Linked DNA regions of Homo sapiens: region 2 is linked to region 1. Evidence: fine-mapped expression QTL. A gene starts in region 1. The other region holds a variant in brackets. All regions are shown on one strand. Distances are from middle to middle. Region 1 holds the start of DAPK1 (death associated protein kinase 1). Region 2 holds the start of DAPK1-IT1 (DAPK1 intronic transcript 1).

Region 1 (2,907 bases):
GATTTGACATAAGGCCTGAGGGGTATTCTTTTGTTTTGTTTTGCCTTGTTTTCAAGAGGCCAAAATCTTCACAGTTGAAAATTTCTGTTGAACCACAGAGATTTGAACCAACTCAGTTTAGAAAGCCTGGGGATTTGAACAACGGTATGGATCGGAAATCTCTTCATCTGTCAGTTTTCATCATTCTAGGCAGTAAAATAGATTTCCCTTTAGGAGCTTTTCACCGTTTGGGGTTCTCCAGCAGTGGGATGTGGGGAATCAACCCTTCTTCGTCTCCACCCAAACATTAGGTGGGAGCAAGGGGTGGGAAGTAGAGAAAGTGGATAGAGGTCTCCAGTGGATATGGGATCTTTGTGTAGACCAGCACAGTCCTCAGAAATCTCATGCAAGCAACATAGGTACTGTTATATTTTCTAGTGGCCACCTTTTAAAAAGTAAACAGGTGAGGCCGGGCGCGGTGGCTCACGCCTGTAATCCCAGCACTTTGGGAGGCCCAGGCGGGCGGATCACGAGGTCAAGAGATGGAGACCATCCTGGTCGACACGGTGAAACCCCGTCTCTACTAAAAATACAAAAATTAGCTGGGCATGGTGACGCGCGACTGTAGTCCTAGCTACTGGGGAGGCCGAGGCAGGAGAATCACTTGAACCCTGGAGGTGGAGGTTGCCACGCTCCACTACACTCCAGCCTGGCGACAGAGTGAGACTCCGTCTCAAAAAAAAGAAAGTAAACAGGTGAAATTAATTTTAATAATATATTTTGTTTAACCCAACGTATCCAAAATACTATCATTTGAAAGTGTAATGAATATAAAAATATTCATGAGATATTTTTCATTCTCATATCCATACTGTCTTGGACTCTAATGTGTATTTTACACTTACAGCACAATTAATTTGGGACTAGCTACATTTCAGCTCAACAATAGCCAATAGCATATGGGATAGCGCAAATAAACTCTGCGTCTCTGTTGCTTCTTTGGGTCTCGGAGACCTCAACCCTTTCTTCAGATTGCAAACCTTCTTGCCTTCAAGCCTCGGCTCCAACACCAGTCCGGCAGAGGAACCCAGTCTAATGAGGTACGCTCCCTTCCTGCCATTCTCTATTCCATTAACCTGTTTCGTGGTAAACGTAGGACTGATCCTCCAAAATTACCTTATTAATTAGCTTACATATTTATTATCTATCTGTCCCACCAGAATGCAGGTTTCCGGAAGGCAGGGATTTAAAAAAATCTGTTTTGTTCTATGTGATTTTCCCATACCAAGCACCGTGCCCGGCACAAGCTGGGATCCCAGTACACATCTCGGGACGGAAGAACCGTGTTTCCCTAGAACCCAGTCAGAGGGCAGCTTAGCAATGTGTCACAGGTGGGGCGCCCGCGTTCCGGGCGGACGCACTGGCTCCCCGGCCGGCGTGGGTGTGGGGCGAGTGGGTGTGTGCGGGGTGTGCGCGGTAGAGCGCGCCAGCGAGCCCGGAGCGCGGAGCTGGGAGGAGCAGCGAGCGCCGCGCAGAACCCGCAGCGCCGGCCTGGCAGGGCAGCTCGGAGGTGGGTGGGCCGCGCCGCCAGCCCGCTTGCAGGGTCCCCATTGGCCGCCTGCCGGCCGCCCTCCGCCCAAAAGGCGGCAAGGAGCCGAGAGGCTGCTTCGGAGTGTGAGGAGGACAGCCGGACCGAGCCAACGCCGGGGACTTTGTTCCCTCCGCGGAGGGGACTCGGCAACTCGCAGCGGCAGGGTCTGGGGCCGGCGCCTGGGAGGGATCTGCGCCCCCCACTCACTCCCTAGCTGTGTTCCCGCCGCCGCCCCGGCTAGTCTCCGGCGCTGGCGCCTATGGTCGGCCTCCGACAGCGCTCCGGAGGGACCGGGGGAGCTCCCAGGCGCCCGGGTGAGTAGCCAGGCGCGGCTCCCCGGTCCCCCCGACCCCCGGCGCCAGCTTTTGCTTTCCCAGCCAGGGCGCGGTGGGGTTTGTCCGGGCAGTGCCTCGAGCAACTGGGAAGGCCAAGGCGGAGGGAAACTTGGCTTCGGGGAGAAGTGCGATCGCAGCCGGGAGGCTTCCCCAGCCCCGCGGGCCGGGTGAGAACAGGTGGCGCCGGCCCGACCAGGCGCTTTGTGTCGGGGCGCGAGGATCTGGAGCGAACTGCTGCGCCTCGGTGGGCCGCTCCCTTCCCTCCCTTGCTCCCCCGGGCGGCCGCACGCCGGGTCGGCCGGGTAACGGAGAGGGAGTCGCCAGGAATGTGGCTCTGGGGACTGCCTCGCTCGGGGAAGGGGAGAGGGTGGCCACGGTGTTAGGAGAGGCGCGGGAGCCGAGAGGTGGCGCGGGGGTGCCACCGTTGCCGCAGGCTGGAGAGAGATTGCTCCCAGTGAGGCGCGTACCGTCTGGGCGAGGGCTTCATTCTTCCGCGGCGTCCCTGGAGGTGGGAAAGCTGGGTGGGCATGTGTGCAGAGAAAGGGGAGGCGGGGAGGCCAGTCACTTCCGGAGCCGGTTCTGATCCCAACAGACCGCCCAGCGTTTGGGGACGCCGACCTCGGGGTGCCGTGGTGCCCGGCCCCACGCGCGCGCGGGGCTGAGGGGTCGGGGGCGTCCCTGGCCGCCCAGCTTTAACAAAGGGTGCTCCTCTCCACCCCGCGAGGAGGGGCAGCTCCGGAGACCCGGTCTTCAGCGAGCGGGGTCTTAGCGCCGGGGAGGTCTACTTCCTTTTGGGGTTGCCATTTTACTATTATTATTGCCTTTTTTTTTTCTTCAAAAGGACTGGAGACTGATGCATGAGGGGGCTACGGAGGCGCAGGAGCGGTGGTGATGGTCTGGGAAGCGGAGCTGAAGTGCCCTGGGCTTTGGTGAGGCGTGACAGTTTATCATGACCGTGTTCAGGCAGGAAAACGTGGATGATTACTACGACACCGGCGAGGA
Region 2 (2,907 bases), 57 kb after region 1:
TTTGTCCCTGTATCCCAAGCCCTGAGCACTATGTCTGGTGCTTAGGGTGCTCAATATTTATTTTCTTTTTCTTTTCTTTTCTTTTTTTTTTTTTTTTTGAGATGGAGTCTCGGTCTGTTGCCCAGGCGGGTGTGCAGTGGTGCGATCTCGGCTCACTGCAACCTCCACCTCCCAGGTTTAAGTGATTCTCCTGCCTCAGCCTCCCGAGTAGCTGGGATCACAGGTGTGTGCCACCATGCCCGGCTAATTTTTGTATTTTTAATAGAGACGGGGTTTTGCCCTGTTAGCCAGGCTGGTCTCGACCTCCTGACATCAAGTGATCCGCCCGCCTGGGCCTCCCAAAGTGCTGGGATTACAGGCGTGAGCCACCATGCCCGGCCTCAATATTTATTTTCAATATTCCACAGATGAGGGCAATAAGGAGAGGAAGCGGAAGAAAAAGGATGAGACATGTGGCTTGTGGGCAGAAAGGGAGGCAGGAGAACATTCCCAGTCTGCCTTTCACTGAGTTTTTACCTGTTCACTAGAACAACAAAAGGGAACCCGATCGGGAAACTCTGCTGTCAACTAAGCAAACTCTAAATTTAACATTTGGGGGACCCCCTTGGAGAGTAGTTGAGAGCTATGTGCTCCCCTTTTCAGAAAAATGCTCTCAAATACTCAGTGCATAAGCCCACAGCCTTAGCAGGTTCCCAGACCTTAGGTCAGCAATCCTGTTCTAAGGCATACATCACGAGCAGCATTTTGATTTTCATCTGGGGAACTTATAGTTCATAAAGACCTACTGATCCATTAAAATTTCCACTTGATTTTGCCATTAGTAATCTCTTAAACAAGTCCAAGGAAGCCAGAGGAAGTTATTTCTTGAATGCTTTTATACTAGTGCTTTCAAGAGTTCGTGTTGCTGACTCCAGTTTTTAAAATTATTATTCTCATCTTCTGCAATGCCTCGAGGCATGTTTTTAGCTGAATAGCAATAATTATGGGATTGTGCAATACTGGAAGAAGCAGTAAAAATAAAATGTAATACTAAAAAAAAAAAAAGTCTTTACTTCATCTAGGAAATTCAGTTTAAAGAATTTTTACCTCCGGACATAACAGTGACTATGCTGGAACTCTGTCTTTGACTCAAGCCAGAAGATGGATGGGACCACCCTTAGGAGCCTTCCACAGGAAGGCCCTCTCCACAGTAGGACTTAGGGCGCTCATGTAGATCCCTCGGCAGTAATGCGCTAGTTGCTCCTATAGTCAGGAGGCATCTAGGGAGATCGCTGATCTCCATGGCAACCTGGACCCAAATGAGCAAAGTGCCATCAGCTGGCCTCGGCCTGACTGCTCTGGCGGGAGGGAGGAAGCTGATGCTGTCTCCCACCCAGGCCGTGTAGCCATTTCCCCCACCCCCACCGGAGGTCTGAGAGTGTCAGGGCTTCTGCCCTTGGCTTCAGCCAGTTCTCCTGGAGGTCATTAAAGGGAAGCCCTTCTGGTGGCAAGTTCTCTGCCACAATCTACAGTGAGAATCTAATGATGGTATCAGTTGTAGAGGCCCCTTGATCTCTGGAGAGGGTTCTTAGTGCCAAGGAACTTTCTAGAACCATGGAGGAACCCTGCAGGGACCTCTGAAGAGTCCTGAGCAAAGAAGTGGGGAAAGCTGTGTGGGTGTGCACCAGGGTCTCATCACCCTGCCCTCAAGGGCAGCCTCAGTATTATG[A/C]CTTAAGGACTTGGGGGTTTACATAACATCCCTTTTTGTCAGCAAAGGAAGTTCCTTATTTCTAAACCTCATGGTCCCAGAAAACCCAGTTCCTGATCTAGCTGTCCCGTTAGGGCATTTCCATAATACAGCACGTTCTTAAGCAGACATTAAGTCAGACAATTAGGTCCCAGCTAAGCCTTGTCTTGACCTCTTAAGCAACATATCTGCCCTCCCTTTTGCCTTCTCTCTTTTCCTTCTCTGTCACAGACACAAGGACTAGATGAGAATGACACCCTGGGGCTATCTGATATACTTCCTCAAGAAGTATTAGTAACACAAACAACAACAGAAAAAACAAAGTGAAATTTATTTATCATGAAGCACTTTATTTTATTTAGTTATTTTTTTTTTTTTTGAGATGGAGTTTCGCTCTTGTTACCCAGGCTGGAGTGCAATGGTGTGATCTCGGCTCACTGCAACCTCTGCCTCCCGGGTTCAAGCAATTTTCCTGCCTCAGCCTCCCGAGTAGCTGGGATTACAGGCATGCGCCACCACGCCCAGCTAATTTTGTATTTTTAGTAGAGACAGGGTTTCTCCATGTTGGTCAGGCTGGTCTCGAACTCCCGACCTCAGGTGATCTGCCTGCCTTGGCCTCCCAAAGTGCTGGGATTACAGGCGTAAGCCACTGCAGCCAGAAGCACTTTAAAGCTTATCGTTAAGAACAAATATGCAGTCATGCAAGAGCACACTGTTAACAAATTACCGGCTAACTAAAAGCTAGGCGAGTTCCATATCAATATGATTAAACAATTGCATGGGAAAATTATTATTTAGAGGAATGGAAGTAGTCACTAGTACGTGTTGTCAGTAGCTTCTGTTTTATTCCTAAAAAGACGAATGAGAAAATGAGGTATTATGAAGGAAGAAGCAAGAGTAAATGCCACCATGGTAATTACTGCCCGGGGCATATGAAGAACTGTTTTTTTGTATTCTAATCTCCGTCACCGAAACTCATCAGTGATGCAGGACCCAAAAATAGAAGGACATTTTGGGTGGACATGTAGTTAATAATGACTTATGCAGCCCAGCACCTGTGTGGGCTGGCATTGTTCTAAGTGCTTTTTCCTGTGTTACCTCATTTAATCTTCACAACAGCGCTGTGAGGTTGGTACAAGTATTATGTTGATTTTATGGAGGAGGAAACAGGTGCAGAGAGG

What was found. PIP is the estimated chance that this variant, and not a neighbour inherited with it, causes the effect.
Region 2: its variant is fine-mapped to the expression of DAPK1 in whole blood (TOPMed, PIP 0.98).

Annotation. Positions count from the first base shown.
Region 1 is chr9:87,496,224-87,499,130 of GRCh38, forward strand. DAPK1 (death associated protein kinase 1) reads left to right here and starts at 1,644. Exons shown (of 26, transcript NM_004938.4): 1 at 1,644-1,884; 2 at 2,747-2,907. The coding sequence starts at 2,855. RefSeq lists silencers at 1,293-1,352, 1,373-1,722, 2,093-2,282, 2,493-2,602 and an enhancer at 1,993-2,750.
Region 2 is chr9:87,553,416-87,556,322 of GRCh38, forward strand. The region is part of intron 2 of DAPK1 (death associated protein kinase 1); the gene reads left to right. It overlaps DAPK1-IT1 (DAPK1 intronic transcript 1), which reads left to right and starts at 39. Exons shown (of 2, transcript NR_146781.1): 1 at 39-175; 2 at 480-1,044. RefSeq lists an enhancer at 2,419-2,588. The variant A/C (reference allele first, on the strand shown) is at 1,709.